Linked DNA regions of Homo sapiens. Changing the gene in region 1 together with any one later gene gives a genetic interaction. Each region holds a gene or a part of one and is shown on either strand. Other genes may lie near its edges.

Evidence for each region.
Region 2: of MAP3K7 (region 1) and TAB1, changing one enhances a phenotype caused by changing the other (phenotypic enhancement), as found in Homo sapiens cells (one study listed by BioGRID).

Annotation. Positions count from the first base shown.
Region 1 is NC_000006.12:90,513,746-90,517,572, reverse strand, and holds part of MAP3K7 (mitogen-activated protein kinase kinase kinase 7), read left to right. Parts: intron 1-891; coding exon 892-1,072; 3' UTR 1,073-3,827. UniProt on the Homo sapiens protein: Serine/threonine kinase which acts as an essential component of the MAP kinase signal transduction pathway. Plays an important role in the cascades of cellular responses evoked by changes in the environment.
Region 2 is NC_000022.11:39,409,553-39,413,379, forward strand, and holds part of TAB1 (TGF-beta-activated kinase 1 and MAP3K7-binding protein 1), read left to right. Parts: intron 1-3,827. UniProt on the Homo sapiens protein: Key adapter protein that plays an essential role in JNK and NF-kappa-B activation and proinflammatory cytokines production in response to stimulation with TLRs and cytokines.

The DNA.
Region 1 (3,827 bases):
AAAAGCTTGATTTCTTATTTCACTTATTTAACCTATACTTTTGCCATACTTTAATCATTTGAAAGAAGTATTCTATGCTGGAAAAAACAAATGGTGGATTAGGGTGTTGGCTGTGAAAACTATGACAGTTTTAATCAATTTTAAATACTTTCAGAAGTAGTATTAGTTAGTTATTTTGCTTGAGGACTTTTTATTAATTATTCATTTATATCCAGTAACCTCACTTTAGGAAATGCCTAAAGATGCATCTTTTTCGGGAATACTTAATAGTTCCCAAATAAGAGGGACTTAAATAAGTTTATCAGACTATAAAAGAATGAGGGTCTTTCCTGAAAGTGCTTGCAAATGTAAGTGTTTTAAAAGAAGTGGTACTTTGTCATTTTTCTCACTGCTTTAAAATGGGAAAAAGCTTTAAATTGGATAGCATTTATTTTAATTAGATTGCAAATTTGCTATTAGCTTACCACTCTCTGCTATAGTTAAGTAGGATTGTGACTTCAGAATGTGAATCAGTATAAAAGTAGAATGTGAAGGATAAAAACTTCATGATATTTTCCCATAGCCACATAGAACCCTTCCCAGCCTTTTTTCATCCTTCCTACACAAAAAGAGGATAGAAAATGAAATTTTCTGAAACTTTTATTTTACCATTTTATCTGCTTCGCTAATTATCCAAGTACAGTTACTTAATAAAAGGATTATGTTATTTGTATGATTACACTAGAAGTAGATGAGAGTTCCATCCCAGCCCATAATTATATTTGATTAGTGTACCTAAGATGCAAAATGATAAACCAAGAATAAAAATTCTCATTAATTGAGCTTCCATCATCAGCTACTAAGGTATGAATTTTTCCATCATGTGTAATATTATGTGGTATTTGTTTGTAGGCAAGAACTAGTTGCAGAACTGGACCAGGATGAAAAGGACCAGCAAAATACATCTCGCCTGGTACAGGAACATAAAAAGCTTTTAGATGAAAACAAAAGCCTTTCTACTTACTACCAGCAATGCAAAAAACAACTAGAGGTCATCAGAAGTCAGCAGCAGAAACGACAAGGCACTTCATGATTCTCTGGGACCGTTACATTTTGAAATATGCAAAGAAAGACTTTTTTTTTAAGGAAAGGAAAACCTTATAATGACGATTCATGAGTGTTAGCTTTTTGGCGTGTTCTGAATGCCAACTGCCTATATTTGCTGCATTTTTTTCATTGTTTATTTTCCTTTTCTCATGGTGGACATACAATTTTACTGTTTCATTGCATAACATGGTAGCATCTGTGACTTGAATGAGCAGCACTTTGCAACTTCAAAACAGATGCAGTGAACTGTGGCTGTATATGCATGCTCATTGTGTGAAGGCTAGCCTAACAGAACAGGAGGTATCAAACTAGCTGCTATGTGCAAACAGCGTCCATTTTTTCATATTAGAGGTGGAACCTCAAGAATGACTTTATTCTTGTATCTCATCTCAAAATATTAATAATTTTTTTCCCAAAAGATGGTATATACCAAGTTAAAGACAGGGTATTATAAATTTAGAGTGATTGGTGGTATATTACGGAAATACGGAACCTTTAGGGATAGTTCCGTGTAAGGGCTTTGATGCCAGCATCCTTGGATCAGTACTGAACTCAGTTCCATCCGTAAAATATGTAAAGGTAAGTGGCAGCTGCTCTATTTAATGAAAGCAGTTTTACCGGATTTTGTTAGACTAAAATTTGATTGTGATACATTGAACAAAATGGAACTCATTTTTTTTTAAGGAGTAAAGATTTTTAATTCTGTGATTGTGTGTATGTGTGTTGAAACTGTAAAGCTTTTATGACTCTAATATTAATCTCTTAAATGAAATTAAAAGGCAAAAGAACATGATTGAGCTTAAATGATCATTTCTTCCTGCAGTGATTCTTGGATTGTTTTCTCATGTATTTGAAAAAAAAAAAATGAAGAAAAATAATGGAAAATGGAAGTAATTACTCCAGCTAAAAAAAGCTTGGACTTAGATTTCTTTTTATGATACCAAATGAGAAATAAACCAGGCAAATCAGAAGGAAGTTAAAGAAGCAAATATAAATTCAACAAGTGTCCTAATTATCCTGGATATTGGAATATTTGATTTTCCTTACAATCCCGTTCTAGAATGCCTGCCGCCTTTCAACACTTTCAAGAGAATTTCAACACTTACAGAGTATTTATATTGTTAACAGTAATTTTGCTACCAAAACCTTCAGAATAACTTTAATAATAAAATGACACTGAAATAATAGACTATACAAACTCTATATTTTTTCAGTTGGTGTTAAAATAAGTCACATTTTGATACCAGTACAAGATGTCTTTTAAATAAGGATGTCATCAGTCTGATTTTTATAGCATTAATGTTTTATGAAGAAAAAGTTCAAAATGAAAGCATTAATTGCTGTGATTATTAGAATTCTATCATGACTGTATTGTAGTTTTTGCTCTATTTCAGATAAGCAAGATCTAAGAAGTTATCAAAACTATTCTTTAAAATGCTAAAGCAGGTAACTTTTTCTTCCATTATTTTTTCCTCCTACCACTGAGTTTTGTAATGAATTCCTTGTGTATACAAGCAATACAGGTGAATACTAAACTGTTATTTTTAGCTTCTTCAAAAGCTATTTTAGAAAGCTTCCTGGAAATAAATGTCTTCTGTCATTTAATTTAAATAAAAGGAGTGTTAATTGTTCCCAAATTTGATTACCTAGCTGAAACAGATATTGGATTCAGCATAGTAATAGTAAAATAAAATTGGCAGAGAAAATAACTGTAGACTAGGATAAAGCATGACTCCTCCATAGCATTGTTGCTTGTATGTACATCTGTCACTCCACTGAAAGGGACCTAGTCACTTTAAAGAGGCCTTTTATCTCAGCACGAGATATCCAAGCGTGAATGCTAAGGCTTGATGTTTCCATTAGGATTTAGCATTCGAGATTTCAGATTTTATTTATAGTCATTGATGTGTTTTGCTGTATTATAACACATTTAAGGGAAATTTTATTATGGTTTTTACATGTAGTCATTTCATAAAAATATCCAGATAGGTAAATGGAAGAAAATAGTAGATTTTAGTCATGGTACCAAATGCAAGAGGCTGTTGAACAGTTGCTTGTTTGTTTACAGTAAGTTCCTTGAGATTTTCAGTACTGTAGTTGCCCTGGACATTGAGTACAGTTCAGCCTTACTCTGTTTTTAAGTAGTTGTGTTGTCAATTTCATGCTTTTAAGTCCTGATGATCCTTGGAGATGGGAGAAAAAGATACCAGGGATAATTAAAATCCACAGCCAGTTTCATCAGTTTCCTCATCCATCCTGCAAATAAAAATGTTAACAAGGAGCCAAACTTATTCGTTCTGGTTTTACAATTTATTTTGACCGTTTTTTGGGTGAAAATTGCAAACAGCCAAGCAAGTGGCTGGAATGCCCCAGTCTAAGAAATTCAAAAACAATCACTGAGTAAGCCCTAATTACATTAATTACATTTTACTCTTGACTCCAGGAAAAGAAAGCAAGCTTTTATCTAATCTAGAGGGAAGTATTCGTGAGCAATAAAAATCACTTTTTTGAGTTGAATAATAATCAGTTAAGAATATTTACCGCATAGCAACACAACATATAAAGATTTGTTACAAGTTGTTTACGGATGTTTGACTATTTTTGCTGAAGTATTTTAGAGTATTGAATGTCTTCTCTCTTCAAGTTTCTTTCATGTTCCTAATTTCAGCTCCTGTAGCCAGAGATCACAGGTCTTCCCTGTGAAACTTTGGTTTCTTTCTATAAATGTGTGTGGTTTTCAG
Region 2 (3,827 bases), on another chromosome or scaffold:
TGCTTCCGTAAACCTGACATGCTTTTTTCCATCTTAGGGTCTTTTTACGTTCCGCTCCCTCTGCCTGGAAGCCTCCTTCTCTGCCTTCTAGAAGGTCACTGCCCCATAGTCATTCAGGTCTGGCTCAGACGTCACCTCCCCAGAGAGGTCTGCTTTTCTGACCACTTCATCTAGAGGCCCCCACCGCCCATCACGCTGTGTCCCATTACCATGGTGTGTTTTCTTCCTAGCACGTAGCGCTGTCTGAGATTGCCTTATTATTGTATTGTGTGTTTGAATTCTCTCTCTCCCTAGAAGGGAGGCTTCAAATAAGGAGCCTCTCTGTTTTCTCTTCTGTGTCCGCAGTACCCAGAATACTGCCAGACTGTTGCAAATGCTCAGCAGATATTTATTGAAAGAATGTATGTAGTGATTTAATGTACTGTAATCACATAATATCATATGTGGGTCCGGAAGACCTAAGTTCCCATTTATGTTAAGAGAGGCATTAATTTTGCTTTAAAATGAAACAGTTCAAGATTAGAACTAGACCCAATTTTGTGTTACTGTGAAGCCGTTTTTCTTCTTCTTTTTGAGACTGAGTCTCACTCTGTCATCCAGGCTGGAGTGCAGTGGTGTGATCTCAGCTCACTGCAACCTCCACCTCCTGCATTCAAGTGATTCTCCTGCCTCAGCCTCCTGAGTAGTTGGAATTACAGGTGCGCACCACCACGCCTGGCTAATTTTTGTATTTTTAGTAGAGACAGGATTTTGCCACATTGCCCAGGCTAGTCTCAAACTCCTGACCTCAAGTGATCCACCTGCCTCAGCCTCCCCAAGTGCTGGGATTACAGGCGTGAGCCACTGTGCCAGGTCAGCAGTTTTTCTTTTGGCGTTGCTTGTACTGAAAGTGTTAAATTTAAGCCTGGTGTCATGAGGAGCTGAGCAGAATTGTTGCCATTTCTACTTTTTTTTTTTTTTAATTTAGTTGTGACATACTTGGCTCAGCTAGCACTTACTGCCATTTCATCTTCCTTTTTTTTTTCATTTCCATTAGTAGGGTTTGGTTATACTGTCTATTTTCAAAGGCTATTAGAAGGCGTTAGTAGCTTTTCAGACCTTGTAGTAAAATTGTGTTAATAAAAATAAATAAATAAAAGTCACCCAGTGAAGACATAAATAAGTGTAGAGACACACCATGTTAATGGATTAGAAGACTCAACATAGTGACAATGTCTACTTTCCCCAAATTGATCTGTAGATTTAAAGCAGTTCCAATAAAAATCCCAACAAGACTTGTGGATATAAGTAAGCTGATTCTAAAATTTATATGAAAAGGCAAAGGAACTCAAATAGCCAAAACAATTTTGAAAAAGAGCAAGAAGATAAGGAGACTCACACTAGCCAATTTAAAGACTTACTATAAAGCTACAGTAATCAAGAATGTAGTATTGGTGGAGGGGTAGACACATCGATCACAGGAACAGAATAGAGTCTAGAAGTAGACCCACACAATTCAATGGAGAAAAGCTAGTCTTTTCAACAAATGGTGTTGGAATGATTGGATATTGGAATGAAAAAAAAAATGGACCTAAACCTCCTTCCTACCTTACACAGAAATTAATTCAAAATGGATCACAGATCTAAATGTAAAATATAAAACTATAAAACTTTTAGAAAAAAACATAGGTGCTCTTTGTAACTTGGGACTGGACAGAGAGTTCTTAAACATGACTCCAAAAGCATGAACCATGAAAGAGAAAAAATGGATTAAATGGACTTCATCTAAACTAAAACCTTTGCTCTGCAAAAGACACTACTGAGTGAAATGCTAAGTTACAAATAAAAAGAACTCTCAGAACACAATAGTTAAGAAAATAACCTAATTTAAAAATAGGCAAAAAACTTGCACTTCACCAAAGAGGATGAGTTGGTGCCAAATAAACACGTGAAAGATACTCAGTGTCGTTAGCCGTTAGGAAGTGCAGATTAAAGTCACGATGAGCTACCACTACCCACCTCTTAGAATATCTAAATTCAGAAAAAGACAATACCACATGGTGGCAAGGACGTGGAGCAGCCGGAACTCAACATTGGAAATGCAAATGGTTCAGCTGCTCTGGAAAACAGTTTGGCAGGTTCTTATAAAGTTAAACATATACTTACCATATGAGCCAGCCCTGTCACTCCTAGGTATTTACCCTGGATAAATGAAAAGTTACATTCATACAAAAACCTGTACATGAATGTTTATAGCATATTTCTTCATAGTTATAAGAAACGAAACAGCCCAAATGTCCTTCAGTGGATGAATGGATAAACAAACTTTACTACATCCGAACAATGGTATATTACTCTATGAAAGAGAGAGAGAGACTGTTGATGCACACAGGCTAACAACTTGGATGAGTCTTAGAGACATAATGTTGAGTGAAAGAAGCCAGTCTCAGGAGGTCATGTTTACTGCATCATTTCATTTATGTGACATTGTGTGACATTGTTTTGTTTTGTTTTGTTTTGTTTGGAGACAGAGTCTCACTCCGTCGCCCAGGCTGGAGTGCAGTGGTGTGCAATCTCGGCTCATGGCAACCTCTGCCTCTCAGGTTCAGGTGATTCTCGTGCCTCAGCCTCTTGAGTAGCTGGAATTACAGGTGTGCGCCACCACGCCCGGCTGATTTTTGTATTTTCAGTAGAGACAGGGTTTCGCCACATTGGCCAGGCTGGTCTCAAATTCCTGGCCTCAAGTGATGAGCCCCTCTTGGCCTCCTAAAGTGCTGGGATTACAGGCGTGAGCCACTGCACCTGGCGTTTAATATGACATTCTTAAAAAGACAAAGCCATAGCAGTGGAAAATAGGTTGCCAGGGATTAGGGGAGGGAGTGCGTTGGGAGTGGAGCTGCCCTGTATCCTGAGAGTGGTGGTAGTTACACACATCTCTACATGTGTCAACATTCACAGATGTGCGTGCCCCAGAAGCCAGTTTTACTCCATGTTAATGTAAAAATAAAACAAACTCCCACACCCTGCAGAAGTTGCTCCAGGGTGCAAAATGTAGAGCTGAAGCACCAAAATAGATAAAAGCAGAATAAAACCAATTATATGAAAAAAAGTGAAGTCACTCCTGTCAGTATATAACTAAACAGAAGCTACAATTTGCCACAAAAGCTAACCACAGGCTTTTTATATATATGATTGCAAAAGCCTGTTGAAGTGGTTTCCACATCCTTTCTGGAAGACTTAACAATAACTTTTAAGAAGTTGCACACAGTATCTGTGTGTGTTTTATTTCTTTTACAGATGATTCACTGTTGGCATATAGAAATGCTACTGATTTTTGTATGTTGATTCCATATCCTGCAACTTTTTTTTTTTTTTTTTTTTTTGAGATGGAGTCTTTTTTTGAGATGGAGTCTCGCTCTGTCACCCAGGCTGGAGTGCAGTTGCACGATCTCGGCTCACTGCAAGCTCCGCCTCCCGGGTTCATGCCATTCTCCTGCCTCAGCCTCCAGAGTAGCTGGGACTACAGGCGCCCGCCACCACACCCGGCTAGTTTTTTGTATTTTTAGTAGAGATAGGGTTTCACCATGTTAGCCAGGATGGTCTCGATCTTCTGACCTCATGATCCACCTGCCTCAGCCTCCCAAAGTGCTGGGATTACAGGCTTGAGCCACCGCGCCCGGCCCATATCCTGCCACTTTACTGAATTTGTTTAATCAGTTCTAATAGTTTTTTGGTGGAATCTAGGTTTTTCCAAATATAAGATTATATCGTCTGCAAACAAGGATCATTTAACATCTTCCTTGCCAGTTTGGATGCCCTCTATTTCTTTCTCTTATCTGGTTGCTCTA